4 linked regions of the Homo sapiens genome follow. The protein of the gene in region 4 purifies or fractionates together with the protein of the main gene of each other region. This does not show direct contact. Each region holds a gene or a part of one and is shown on either strand. Other genes may lie near its edges.

What was found. The genes of interacting proteins can lie anywhere in the genome.
Region 1: the proteins of PTPRR (region 4) and CBS purify together in Homo sapiens (affinity purification with mass spectrometry, with the first as the bait; one large-scale study listed by BioGRID). This does not show direct contact.
Region 2: the proteins of PTPRR (region 4) and KCTD5 purify together in Homo sapiens (affinity purification with mass spectrometry; one large-scale study listed by BioGRID and IntAct). This does not show direct contact.
Region 3: the proteins of PTPRR (region 4) and MRPS33 purify together in Homo sapiens (affinity purification with mass spectrometry; one large-scale study listed by BioGRID and IntAct). This does not show direct contact.

What each region holds. Positions count from the first base shown.
Region 1 is NC_000021.9:43,062,336-43,065,835, forward strand, and holds part of CBS (cystathionine beta-synthase), read right to left. Parts: intron 3,361-3,500; coding exon 3,281-3,360; intron 3,187-3,280; coding exon 3,052-3,186; intron 2,938-3,051; coding exon 2,868-2,937; intron 1,657-2,867; coding exon 1,565-1,656; intron 744-1,564; coding exon 618-743; intron 61-617; coding exon 1-60. UniProt on the Homo sapiens protein: Hydro-lyase catalyzing the first step of the transsulfuration pathway, where the hydroxyl group of L-serine is displaced by L-homocysteine in a beta-replacement reaction to form L-cystathionine, the precursor of L-cysteine.
Region 2 is NC_000016.10:2,689,023-2,692,522, reverse strand, and holds part of KCTD5 (BTB/POZ domain-containing protein KCTD5), read right to left. Parts: intron 1-3,500. UniProt on the Homo sapiens protein: Its interaction with CUL3 suggests that it may act as a substrate adapter in some E3 ligase complex. Does not affect the function of Kv channel Kv2.1/KCNB1, Kv1.2/KCNA2, Kv4.2/KCND2 and Kv3.4/KCNC4.
Region 3 is NC_000007.14:141,004,953-141,008,452, forward strand, and holds part of MRPS33 (small ribosomal subunit protein mS33), read right to left. Parts: intron 1,584-3,500; coding exon 1,478-1,583; 3' UTR 1-1,477.
Region 4 is NC_000012.12:70,658,739-70,662,238, forward strand, and holds part of PTPRR (receptor-type tyrosine-protein phosphatase R isoform 1 precursor), read right to left. Parts: intron 2,470-3,500; coding exon of another isoform or gene 2,464-2,469; exon of another isoform or gene 2,360-2,463; coding exon 2,202-2,359; intron 1-2,201. UniProt on the Homo sapiens protein: Sequesters mitogen-activated protein kinases (MAPKs) such as MAPK1, MAPK3 and MAPK14 in the cytoplasm in an inactive form.

The sequences.
Region 1 (3,500 bases), on a different chromosome or scaffold from region 4:
CAGCATGCGGGCAAAGGTGAACGCCTCCTCATCGTTGCTCTTGAACCACTTGTCCACCACCTGAGCAGGACCCCACCACAGCCCGTCAGCGTGGGAGCCGCTCCCACGTGACCAAGAGGGTGAACAGCCTCATGGTGGACCCCGTGTCTAGGCGGTAGGACCCCAGAGGTCTCACCCCAGCCTCTCCCCCTGGGATCGGCACGTCTGCAGACTTTCCAGTTCCAACACGTTTTGCAGACAGCAAAACTGCCCGCCAGCCCCACTGAGCATCCGTGTGACCCACACCGGCCCTTCGGTCTCTGCTCTCCCTCAGGCCAAAGTCAGCTTTTTGGCTCTTAACAGACTTTTCCGGGGCCTTAATTTTCACACGTTTTCCCTGCTCCCTGCCTGTGCCACCTGGGCTACATCCCTTGGTGAGGTCAGGCCACGTGTGCGGACATCGTCCCCCAGTCTACTTTGTCTCGACCTTCGAGACCAGCTTCTCACCATGCGTGCGGGGCTTGCCCTTCTGTTTCAGTGGAGAAGCTGGTTGGGGCCCAGGGTCAGCCAGGCTCCCCAGTGTGAGGGTGAGTTACAGGCTGCACCGGCACTGTGGCCGGGCTCTGGACTCGACCTACCGTCCTGTCCAGCACCGTGGGGATGAAGTCGTAGCCGATCCCTTCCACCTCGTAGGTTGTCTGCTCCGTCTGGTTCAGCTCCTCCGGCTCTGCGAGGATGGACCCTTCGGGATCCACCCCAATGATCTGCAGAGGGCGCGGCTTCAGGGCTCAAGGCCAGCAAAAGCCCCGCCTGGACATGCCTCGATATTCTATTATGGGAGTGGCCAATACCGCCGTTAACAACTGCCTGTTAATGATCTGCCTGTGGGTGGTGGCCTGTTCCCAGCCTCAGAGGCAGGATGAGAAACCCAAGAACCCAGGCTCCAAGTATTAAAGCGGTAATGACCTAAATGTTCAGTGCAGGGCGCTCAGAAGTAAAGGCAGGTGCCTGGGAGGAACTGACCTCCCCGGGGTGCTTCTCGGAGCGGGGCCCCCAGGACAGTCCAGACAGACCACCCTGCGGCGGAGCAGCAGAGCCTTTGGGGACAAAGGGCATTGCTGGGCAGTGACGTCTTTTTCAAGGGCAAGCAACAGGGAGAGAACGCCCTTGTCTCATCAGCGGGACCTTTCTAGGCACCCGTCCTCAGACCTGCTCTTAACCCCGAGTCCAGGAACCCTCTCCCAACTCCCACAAGCCCCAGTTGAGGGGCAGACTCAGGACCAGAGGACTTAGAGCTCCTGGCTGATCCTCAGAGGCCCCCAGTTGGAACTCCGACCCCCCACTCAGCGCAGGAAGGTTCTCCAAGACACTGGCCGGTGAGCGAGCACCCAGCCCCAGCTCCTTCGGGTCACGAGCTGCTGGTCCCTTATGTGTCAAGCACCCTTGTCTTCCCAAACACCTCCCAGGCAGCGCAGAAATACCGCGGGAGACAGCGTGCTGAGCAGACCGTGAGGAATGACAGCTTTCAGCTCAGAAGCCGGGGCCACTCCGCACTGCCCCTCTCCGGCCCGGCCACACCACTCACCCTGCATCCAGGACACTTCTCCTTCAGCTTCCTGGCAATGCCCGTGATGGTGCCGCCCGTGCCCACTGAAGCCACCAGCATGTCCAGCTTCCCTGGTGGACGGATAACATTCTTGGGTCCCTGCCTGGCCAGCCCATCACTCATAGTAATAATCATTGAAAACACACTCAGCCCAAACCACGGTGGGTAACCAAAAAGTTCAAAAGAAAAACTTCTTCTCCAGTTGGAGCAGCCCTCGTTGCTGCCCTTGGTCTGTGAAAGCCTCAGAAACAGGCAGCCTGGGGCACCCCAGCCCAGTCTTTGCTCAGTGACACTCGACCCCTAAAACCCCCATTTGGCTGGATGCAGAAAGACAGGACCCTGTCCGGGGGGTGCAGGCGCTGAGGGCGGGCAGAGGGAGGCTGTGAATTAACCACCTCCGTGGGCTGTTGGATGTTTGCGTGGTGTGAGTGAGTTAACTGAATTTACACAGGAAATGGAATCAGTCTTTTAGGCTTCAGCGCAGAAACTCGCTGGGCGCTCACACTGCTGGCCGCCAGCGCGGGCATCTGGTGGAGAAGTCACAGCAGGGAAAGACTCAGCGAGACGGAGCAGCTTGGGCACCCATGCTGAGACAGGACTGTTTTTGCCAAATGAGAGAGTTCTCACACATAAAGCCCAAACAACCAAATGCCTGGACCTTACAGCCCGGCTCCTGGGCACGGACTGAGGGTGTACTCCAGCCCATGCCAACACCGGATTCCCAATAGGAAGCCAGGGCGCCAACCTCTTGGCAACTTATCTCTAAAGGGATCTCTTGGGAAAACCTCAGTACCAACCCCCACAGGCCTTGGCACCGAGTCCCTGGAAAAGGGCCCAAGGAGCCGGCCTCATGCTTGTAACAGAGAGTGAGCTCATCGCAGATGTCACCAGCTCTGTTCTGCAGATGAATTTGATGCCGAGTCAGGGCATGATCCCAAATGAAGTCCAAGCTGTGAGCCCAGCACCAGCCTGGGCCCTGAACAGACTCGCTGTCTGCATTATCTGCAGGAGGAGCCCCTGCAGACCTGCAGAGATTGCTGGGTAAACAAATACAGCCATGCCCTGTGTTTGCTATTACAGGTAAACCACAGGCGGAGGCCAAGAGGGCACAACGGAGGGAGGAAATTGTTCTAGAGAAATGCTCTAGAAAAGCATTTCACAGAGGGAACATTTGAGCTGGGTTCTGAAGGGTGAATAGGAGTTCACCAAGGAGAGGGCAAGAGATGTGTACACTCCCAGGCAGCCAGGGATAAATGCAATCAAGATGGACAGAGGGACGCACCATCACACTGCTGCAGGATCTCATCAGCGGTGGTGTCGTAGTGAGCCAGGGGGTTGCTGGCGTTGCGGTACTGCATAGAAAGAGAGCAGAGCCCGTGAGCTGACCCCTGACACCTCAGTCACCCCCACATCCCTGACCGAGACCCTCCTAGGGAATGCCTGTCTCCAGGCCCCAGGTGCCTCACCTGGTCTAGGATGTGAGAATTGGGGATTTCGTTCTTCAGCCGCCAGGCCACCCCCACGTGTGACTCCGGGGAGTCGAACCTGGCATTGGTGGGCGTCCTCACAATCTCAGCCCCCAGTGCCCGCAGCACGTCCACCTGCAGGAGGGAAAGCGGTGGCCTGCACCTTCCGCCTGGCCCAGGCACCCTCATCCCCTGCCCTATGACCCCGCCCCTGGCCACGCCCACCCACCTTCTCGGAGCTCATCTTCTCTGGCATCACGATGATGCAGCGATAGCCCCTCACTGCCGCAGCCAGGGCCAGCCCGATCCCTGAGGGCACACAGAGGGTGAGAGGGGCCCAGTGACCCCCCAAGCCCTGCCCCGCCCCTGCCTGGGACACAGGGGCACACCCCGATGCCGGTTCCCTTAGGGCCCAGGGAAGAGGGTTCTGTGGGATTCCAAAATTGCCC
Region 2 (3,500 bases), on a different chromosome or scaffold from region 4:
ACAATTGGCAAGTGGAAGACCAGCTGCAGAGGGAAGCTACCCTCTCTGCTGAGAGCTGGGAAGTCAATGGAGAGGAGCCAGCCAGTCCGGGGCCGCTTCTCTGCTGAGAGCTGCCAACTGAATGAGCCGACCTGCCTACAGAGAGGAGCTGCCCCCACAGTCTCCTCTGCACTGTCCCAACACTTGGTAAAGCTTCTCTTCGTCATGCTCACCCTCCACTTGTCTGCTACCTCATTCTTCCTGGACGCAGAACAGGAACTTGGACAAAGGTGCTGCCGGCCAGAGACGTTTCTGGCCAGAAAAGCGACACCCTAAAGACACCGTATCAGCAGGGCTGGGCACATCCAGACACAGGGACGTGGAGCTTTGCAAGGCCAAGTTTACCAGCCGGAGCCATGGCACCTTTCCAGGGTGCCTGAAGAGAGATCCTGCTGGCAGTGAGAGCTCTGGCCACAGTGGCTAGGCTCTGCCCAGCTCGTCTCAGTCCCTGGAGCTCAGGCTCCTGACAGAGGGACCAGGAAGCCCCCGGACGCACCTGTGTGGGAACCGCACGCCCCAGGAACCTTCCTGATGCGCTTTCCCTGCAGCCTGTGGCTCCAGCCCATCCCTGTGCTCAGGGGCCAGCAGCCTGGGTGCAAAATACCCAGCCATCAAAGGCAGGGGAGGCTGAGGCACCGCGGGGGACCCCACGTGCATCCAGTTAGGAAGAGACTTGAAAGGAGCAGCCTCTGGAAGACTTCCAGGAGTCCAGATGCTTGTTGCCAACCTCGCTGGGAGCCAAGGCTGCAGGGCAGAGGAGCAGAGAACCCCAGCTGCGTCTACCAAGAACCTGCCAGCCGCTCCACACCCCCGCCGCCCCAGTGCCTCCAGGACAGTGGGCTTCCTATGGGGCCCCCGCCACAGTACACTCCTCCCACGTGGTTCAATTCTCTGAGCCCCACGACCTCTGGGCCCATGCAGGACCTACCCAGGCTGCGTGGACTCGGCGCGCCGGGCCTGCAGCTGCCCCCACAGCCCTCTCCCGGAGTGACACTGCAGAGCCCTGCGTGGCCCTAGAACCCAGCTGAGCCGCCGGGCACCAGAGGCTGAAGGGCGAGCAGTAGGCTGAACCCTTGGTGGGAAATTCCAAAACTGGCTCTTCTGTGGCTGGCCTCACAGCTCTCCGGCCGTTTCTTCCCATGGGTTCCTTCTAACTGGTGGGTTTCCTCGAGAAACAGGCCCTGTCTGGGCAGAGCGGAAGGTCAGGGACATCCGCACCAGGGCGGGGAGGCAGTGGCGTGTGGAGGTGCTGCTCTCACCACTGCTCTCTTTGAAGCTTTCAATGAGAGATTTCCACATCCATAGGAAGTGCCAGGGTCTTAAACCAGGACCCCCAAATCCCACCAGGGTTCGGGTCTCGCTGTGGCCTGACTCGCTTCCAAGCATGTAGGCAGGGTCTTGGTGCTCCCAGCTCGGGTGAGCCCACATGTTCCAGATCGGCCTAATGTGTGCGGGGGCTACTCGTGGTGCCAGCCCAGGCCCAGACAGTGCCCAGCCCAGGCGCGAGGGCCTCGGCAGCTCACTGCTGGTGTTGGGGATGTGGATCAGCCTCCACCCTGATGCAGAAACAACAAAAAAATATGGAACATGGGAAAATGGGAAACACAAAATCATACAAAATTCAGGATATACTCCGAGGCTCATGGAGACAAAGGCAGCAAGGTCACCTCGGGGAGGTTTAGAACAGCGTCTGGGCCAACCTAGGCAGGGCCCCTGTGCTGCCCGTAAGGCCATCAGCGGCGCCTGCCCAAGCCCCCATGACACGAGGAAGGAAAGATGCCCCGGCCCGCTCACGCCTCTACGACTGGGATGAGGAGAGGCGGCCAGGAAGCCAGTGAGATGCTGCGGGCTGGGCGTGGGGGTGCTCTTCTTCCTGGCTTTCTCATACGTTCCACGGCTTACACAACCAGCACAGGCTGCGCTTGATCTCAGGAAGGTTCGTGGTGGTTTTTTTCTAAAACAGCCATAATTAAGACTGTTTTATTGACAAGTCATTTCCCTCATCTTCCCCGCGTCTCACTGAATTGGCATCTGACCTACTTGTGGCCGGGCCCAAGCTGGCATTGAGTGGGCCCAGCAGGCTGGGCTGAGCCACCCATCTCCAGAGGTCCCAGGCTTCAGCCGGAGCCACAGGACGTAGGCCGGGCAGGACAGTTGCCAAACCACAGAGGAGAGGGCGACCCTGGCCACGGGAGCACATGGCAGACAGCGCCGAGCCAGGGCACACACAGCCCTGGCAGACGGAGGAAGACTCCGCAGACAGAGCTGACTGCTCGCCCACTCCCCAGGTCCACAGGGCAGCCGCAGATGGACGTCTGGTCAGGAGAGCAACACTCAGAGAAGTGTGGTAACAAGACTGGCCGCTCTGCTCATCTCACCAGACTCCGGCTGCAGCTCTCCGCCATCCATGCTGTCACCCAGCAAAGCACCGGGGGCAACGTGGGGGTTCCCCAGCCTCTCAGGGACAGGTCCCTAATGCAACCAGCAGCCTTGAAAATGGCAGTGAAGGGCTGGGCACAGTGGCTTACGCCTGTGATCCCAGCACTTTGGGAGGCCAAGGCAGGCGGATTACCTGAGGTGAGGAGTTCAACACCAGCCTGACCAACATGGTGAAACCCTGTCTCTACTAAAAATACACAAATTAGCCAGGCATGGTGGAGGGTGCCTCTAATCCCAGCTACTAGGGAGGCTGAGGCAGGACAATCACTTGAACCTGACAGCCCCGTTGCAGTGAGCCAAAATTGTGCATTACACTCCAGCCTGGGCGATCCAGTGAGCCTCTGTCTCAAAAAAAAAAAAAGAAAAGAAAACGGCAGTGAGGAATGAGGGTGGAGACTGCCAGGCTCTCACGCCAGATTCTGAACCCAACATAACCCTGCTGCTGCCCAACCCTCCCGCAGCTCCCAGAGCTCTGCAAAGAGGGTCGGCCCTGCGGCTCTCAGTCATTCCCGGTGCTCGGAGACACGTGCCACCAGAGGGGAACGAAATCAAGAGGGTGCAGTGCCCTGAGCCAATCCAGGAGATAAACTCTGTCAAATTGCCCCACAGAAATCTAGACGCGAAGGCATAGAATTTCCTGTGCACCAACATCTGCAATCAACCTAATTAGAAATACTTAGTTTTTACTCTGAAATTATCCATTTCAAGTGACTCTGTTTCAATTTCGCACACAAAACCTTCACCTCTACTCTCTCTTCTGTTTTGTTTTATGCAGCTGTGGCATATCTTTGGCCCACAAGAGGACTTTGATGTCACCAATTACTAATGGGGAAACTGAGGCCAGAGACCAAGGAGGCTTGTCCAAGGCAGCCAGATTCGGAGAGCAGGGTGGGGCCCCTGTGCCCTGGTCGCCAGGCCTGCTGCCTCCCCACCACCCTTCCCTTCCATTGCTTCTCGGCCTCACCCAGCATAGAAACTGGAATTTGGGAGGTCCCTGCCCCACACATGACTCAAAGCTTAGT
Region 3 (3,500 bases), on a different chromosome or scaffold from region 4:
TAGCCAGGATGGTCTCGATCCCCTGACCTCGTGATCCACCCGCCTCGACCTCCCAAAGTGCTGGGATTACAGGCGTGAGCCACTGTGCCCGGCCAAGCCTTCACAATTTCTTTGGAAACTCATTGCTGGAATACAATAAAACCAGCAGCGAGCTACTCAAATCTATACAACAGTCATCCCTCATAGAACTTCTAGTTATGTTCAAGCTTTTCCACAGAATTTCCAAAGCCCTTCATGATCTGGCCTCTGTTTTCTTACAGCCAACCATGAACAAACTCAGTGTTTCTTGAACAGACAATTTCTTCATACCTTAGGGCTTTGCAAATAGTACTCTCTGCCTCAAACCCCTTTCTCACCATTTTCCTTTTGGCAACCTCTTATTTATTCTTCAAGGTTCAGCTTAAATATCATTTTTTTTTTGAGATGTAGTCTTGCTCTGTTGCCAGGCTGGAGTGCAGTGGCGTGATCTCAACTCACTGCAACCTTTGCCTCCCGGGTTCAAGCGATTCTCCTGCCTCAGCATCCCGAGTAGCTGAGACTACAGGTGCATGCCACGACGCCCAGCTAATTTTTGCATTTTTAGTAGGTGGGGTTTCACCATGTTGGCCAAAATGGTCTCGATCTCTTGACCTTGTGATCCACCCACCTCGGCCTCCCAAAGTGGTGGGATTACAGGTGTGAGCAACAGCGCCTGGCTTAAATATCATTTCTTTAGGGAAGCTTTCTTTAAACTCCCTAATGTGATTTGGGCTTCTGGCTATCTCTCTCTGCATTCATCCATCCATCCATGCTCTTATAGAAGTCTGGCTTTTTCCTTTGTAGCATGTAATACAATTGTATGTAATTATGTAATATTAGTCCCTCCCACAAGACTGAAACTTACATGAGGTAGGGAGTATTTCTCTTGCTAACCACGTGTATTACCAGGGCCCCAATATCTTGTACAGAGCAGGTATTCAATACTTCCTTTTAAAAGATACTTACTCTACAAATTCATCTTAATAGATTTCTCAAAGGAGTAGGTGAAGACACACACAAAGTTTGTGAGCTTGGTGGTGGAGACAGTGGCTGAAAGGCCCAAGATGAAAGAAGTTTAGGGCTGGGTGAGTCAGTAAGCAAGAAGGGAGAAATGAGGACACTATAGGATGCTCACTTAATGAGGTTTCCCCTCCATTCCCCCAGCATCCCATCCCACCCCAAACAAATCATCAAACAATAACTTAGGTATTTATTTCATTAGAGAATCAGGTAAACCTCACATTACACGGCCAAGGCCAAGATAATTTTGCACAGTTAGAATGTGTTCAAGAAACCAGCCACAATGTAACCGGATTAGATTTCACCAAGGAGATGACTGTGTTCCTCCAAATAAACTTCATTTAGGAAGATGACATTCCTCCAATAGGTGGAAAGACAATAAATGCACTTTCTTCTCTCCGCCACTGAGGAAGAAAGTCTCCCTCTTGAGGGACCAACACTATTTCCTTTTTGCTGCTCTTTTCCCTTCTCCTTTCTTTGGTTTCTCCTTTCCACGAAGCTTCTTTAGTCGTTTTTGCTCATCCATAAAATCCTGATGCTCATCTCTGAATGAAGAAGGAAAAAATAATTAACCAGTTATTTTTACGAGTAGAAAAGTACACTAATCTAGCACGCACTGCTCTCTTAGGTCATTCTGGTTATCGATCTTTGACTTTTACAAGTTAGCCACATGCTCAGCTTGGTGAACAAAAAGTATAGGGAGTCCCTAACACAGAGATGCGGTGTATTCCAAAAGTTCACTTGTAAGTCCGTTTCCCCTCACAGAAACACTGCCACAAGCTGCAGGGAAATTCCCAGGCCAGCCTACATAAACCTACATAACAATGACACAATACTAATGATTACCCCAAATTTCCCTGCAACACTAAGACTAAACAGAGAGGAGACAAAGTGGGAATCTGCTTCAATAGCTACACAGAGACCCTGACTGCCCTAGGAACTAGCATCTACTCAGAATGGGGTGAGGTCTGGAGGAAGCTCAGCCTGGCCAACATGGTGAAACCTTAGTGGCAGCAGGTAACTCACACAAAAAGGCTGCTGGGGAAAGGCTCAGGCAGAAGGAAGCCAAATCAAAAGACAGATACTAAAGGAATCAAAGCAGCCAGGACTACGTAAGTATGTGGATGGCACAGAAGTTGATGATTGCTTATATTATAAAAAAAAGTCCACATCTTAAGCCCAGATACCTAAAGATTGGTATGGTGTTTAAACATGTAAGCTCTGGATTCCATGTGAACCTGGGTTCAAATCACGGCTCCACCATTTACTAGATCTGTCACCTTGGATAAGTGGCCTTACCTCCCTGCACCTTAGTTTCCTAACCTGTAAAGTATGGATAATAACAGTGTATGAATCAAATGTAAGAGAGGGGTGTGCTGAGCTTAAGTTTTAACTCTCTAGGCTATCCATGAACATCATGGACAGTATACAACTCTTTGGGATTAGTGGTGAGTGTCCCCAAATAATTCTCAACAGTGCAGCTGGTATAATTCTTCTAAAATATATGTCAGATCATGCTACTCCTGTTCATAGCCCTGCAAATAGTTCCCCATTTCAACCAGAGCAAATGCCATTGTCCTTACTATGGCTTCACAGCCCCTTGCAATCCGTCTCCAGTCCCACACCCTCCCGGTACCTGCACGCCTCCTGGAAAGGAACACTCCCACCTCAAGGCCTTTGCTGTGCTCTTGCCCCTCTGCCTTGCAAACTCTTCCCCAAGTCCTACTTGGCTCACTCACCACCTTCAAGCCTCTGCTTAAACCTCAACTCCTCAACGAGGCTGACCCTGACTGTCCTGTTTCATCCTGTAATCTAGCCTCTCCCCACCTACTGCAGGCCCCGTCAGCACTCTGGATCCTGCTCAGCCGGCTCTACTATTTTTTTCCACAGCATGTTCAACTTTGTAACAGATCCTATAATTTACTTATTTTTTTTCCCCCTCTTCTGTCCCTCCTTCATTCTCATCAACCGTTGGACAGAAAGAAAGCTTTCTGGCGACTCTGTCTCTGTTGATGATACAAGCTAGGTACCTGGTTAACTGAATGAATCAATTGTTTCTGAGAACTGGTGCTTCCCTCCCTCTTTTGCAGATCTCTGAATAATATTTTCTTTATTGGAGACTGTCTAGTTTCATCCTGCCTGATGCCACAGGAGGCCTAGCATTAGAGGTATCATTTACCATACCTAGTGACTACGTGAAAATAATCTTGTTTTTCTATGGATAACTATTTTTCCCTGTCCCCAAAGATAGTTAAGTCTTTATTTTTCAAACAAACAGACAGCAGCAGCAAAAAGATCAATTAAAATAACTGAATGTGATTTTTTCATGGGTTATAATCTTCTCCTCAGGATATCTGCCTCCCAATATTTTATTTTGGGTTATAATAAAATTAGTTTTTATTTTCTGAGCCCAGACTAATGGCAAGAGAGGTAGTCCCAAAGCAATTCCAAACATTCAAAAC
Region 4 (3,500 bases):
TAAGAATTTGATGAAGACTATAAGCTTCCACTCTTCAGAAAAATTCACATAAGTTTACATACTCAAATGTGTCCAAATAATTTCAAGGAGTTCACTGACCTCTGCGGTTTATGGATAGGTTCAACGTTAGGGACTTTTGCTCTAGTTTTTTTTTTTTTTTTTTTTTTTTTTTTTTTTATAAGACAGAGTCTTTCTCTGTCGCACAGGCTGCTGAAATACAGTGGCGGGATCTTGACTCACTGCAACCTCTGCCTCCTCGGTTCAAGCGATTCTCCTGCCTCCGCCTCCCAAGTAGCTAGGAGTACAGGCACATTCCACCACGCCTGGCTAATTTTTGTATTTTTAGTAGAGAGGGCGTTTCATCATATTGGCCAGGCTGGACTTGAACTCCTGACCTCAAGTGATCTGCCTGCCTCGGCCTCCCAAAGTGCTAGGATTGCAGGTGTGAGCTACCGCACCTGGCCCATTGACAAGCTTTGAGCAGAGACTCCATGTAAGGTGAGACGGAGAAAGGGCACAGGTAGGCCATGGTGGCGGTGAGAGCATGGGGGAATGCGGTATGTGTGTGCATTTTACCAGCTACTTCTAAAATACATGGATGAGGTCAGAAGGGCCTGAACTATGGTGGCTGGACAGGAAATGGTGATTATGGGAGAAGCTTTGAAGGGAAAGCCAATCTAGTGACTGATTAGATACTGATGTTGGAGTTAAAAGGAGGACCAGAGATAACTGTCAACATGGGATCCTGAGTGACTGGAAAAAAGATAGTCTCATTCTCAGAAATAGTAATCAGAAGGGGAGCTGGTTTTATAGGGGAAGTGACTAGTTCATTTTAGATATCCTGAGTGTTTAATGACTTTGGGTGGGGGACAGTTCCAGCCCTAACGCATAGTCAGTTAGGCTGTTTTTTTGTTTTTGTTTTTTTGGCTCCAAGTTAAGTTTAGGATAAAGCCAGTATTATCTACCTTTGGATAAATAGACACATAGTAAACTTTACTCTTAATTAAACCACACAATCTCAAAAAAGGAGGCTAAAATTATACTCTAAAATAATATATTTATTAAATATATCATCAAAAGCTGACTTAAGAGACCTATGCGGTTAAACAAAGCAACCCAAATTATTTTGAGAAAGCATGAAGAATAAATGGCTGGCTGGGCATGGTAGCTCACACTTGTAATCCCAGCACTTTGGGAGGCCAAGACAGGTGGATCACGTTTGAAGTCAGGAGTTTGAGACCAGCCTGGCCAACATGGTGAAACCCCCGCCTCTACTAAAAATATAAAAATTAGCCAGGCGTGGTGGTGCATGCCTGTAATTCCAGCTACTTTGGAGGCTGAGGCAGGGGAATCACTTGAGCCAAGGAGGCGGAGGTTGCAGTGAGCCGAGATAGCGCCACTGCACTCCAGCCTGGGTGATAGAGTGAGACTCTGTCTCATAATAAATAAATAAATAAATAAATAAATAAATAAATAGTTGTTCATATAAATTACTTTAAAAATGCTGCCTTCAGTTTGGTTACATTAAAAGGAAAATTAGGGGAAGGAGGTATCAGTTTTAGGAAGAGAGCTTTGAACTAGAAATTAGGGACAGGAACCAGCACAGACCCTGCTGCTGTTGTTGGCTTGGCCTCTAGTGCTCCATGTTCTGGTAACAGCACTTTGTTTTCCTTTGGTGACTTGCTCACTTCTCATTTCATAAATTTGTTTCAACCTGTTTTTCTGGAGATAACTCTTAAAATAATTGACTGGTTTTCACCAAACTTGAAATAGTAATGTTACCAAGATACAAGCCAAGCAGAGTTCACATGTCATGTTGAAACAACAAAAAAGCCACTGATAATTTCAAAAAGTGCATCTTTATTCCTGGTGTGTACAAGACTGATGAGACTAAATCAATCAATATAAGTTTCAAAGCAGATAACTGCTGAATAGGTCTCCTGTTCACTGAGCCATTTATTACGAACTTGTATTTCGCCGACTGTGTAATTGTTGTTTGTGAAAAATGACCTAAAAGCATGACTTCACTTCTGTCAGCATAATCTTGATTCAGACTCAAATATTACAGACTTAACCAATTTCAATAAATATTTAATTTGCCAACAAAGTCACATCCAGGAAGCAAAACCCACTTGCACCTGCTCTGTGACTTTACAAAGAATGGGCCATTGCTTAGACAGAAAGGACCATACACGTCTTACCTGCAGTGGACAACCACAGGCCCTCGGCCCTGGGAAGCAAGTCTGTCTTCTTCTACATCCAGCATGAGCTGTAGGAGGGGCTGGGCACTGTCTGGAGTCTTGTGATCAGGCCATGAGGTGTACCAGTAATGCTTCACATGTTGGGTGTGGCTTCCTTGCTGAAAATAGCAACAGCCACCAAATGCCTCATTCACTTGTAGAACTAAAAGTCATCCAAACCACAATACTGAATGCCTTTTATCACCCCCATCTTGCTGGCAATTTATTTCTAGGTGGGAAAAAAATTTAGAAGATTTTTGAAGAGTGCCCTTTTACTTTGAGAAGACTTTACTGTCAGTAACCTGTTTGCAAAGTGAGAAAGTCATACCTTTGTTGAGATTTACATCTCTACCTATAGTTATAATATAGATCATATAAGTAACATATGCTAAATATATATTTATAATTTATTATAATAAACAAGATGGTAGGTGAAAATGTAGCCAAGAAAGAATGAGATATATTTTGTTTCCTGCTCTATGAGCATTCCTGACAAGTTATTATAAACATGTTAATCAATAGAACACTTAATTTCATATCAGTCATGCTAATACTTCTACACTCATCCAAAACTCCAGTATTTAATAGGAGTGAGGAATCACAGCAATAAAGAAGCTACATGAGATCCCTCTATTGGAAACACTTGGGTGAGGGCCCACACACCTCATCTCCAAACCCAGCACGGGTGAGGGTGTGGCATGAACCTCGCACTCCAGAACATGTGTTGAAAAATAAGTTTTGGTAAATGCCTTCCTATTCCAAACTTCCCCGGCACTCCAGAACATGTGTTGAAAAACAGGTTTTGGTAAACGCCTTCCTATTCCAAACTTCCCAACAAAAGCCATCACTGTAGCTCTGCCCCTGTTTTCTTCCTCTTTGTGATGATTCTATCCCAGCAGTGAGGCTGCAGATAAGATCGAAATTTTTGGGTGATTATTCTCCAGAAGCAAAAATAATACCATGGTAACATTTCTCAGCATCTGCTGCCCATGAGTTAAATAAGATAGTTTTCCTATGACATAATCTCGTCTGGGGAAAGTCCCTATAAATTACTGTAACTCCACGCTTCTGAAGATCTCATCAACACTTCAGGCTTGCCTTGCTTCCCACTGCCACCCACAAATGCAGATTTTCTCTTTCACAGCTTCCAGGCCTTACGCAAAGCTGCTTAGATCAAAATGACATTAAAAAAAATCATGGTAAAGTCTCCAGCACAGCCTTTAGTTAAAAGCTTTCAAAAGGTTAAATCAGAGATATTTT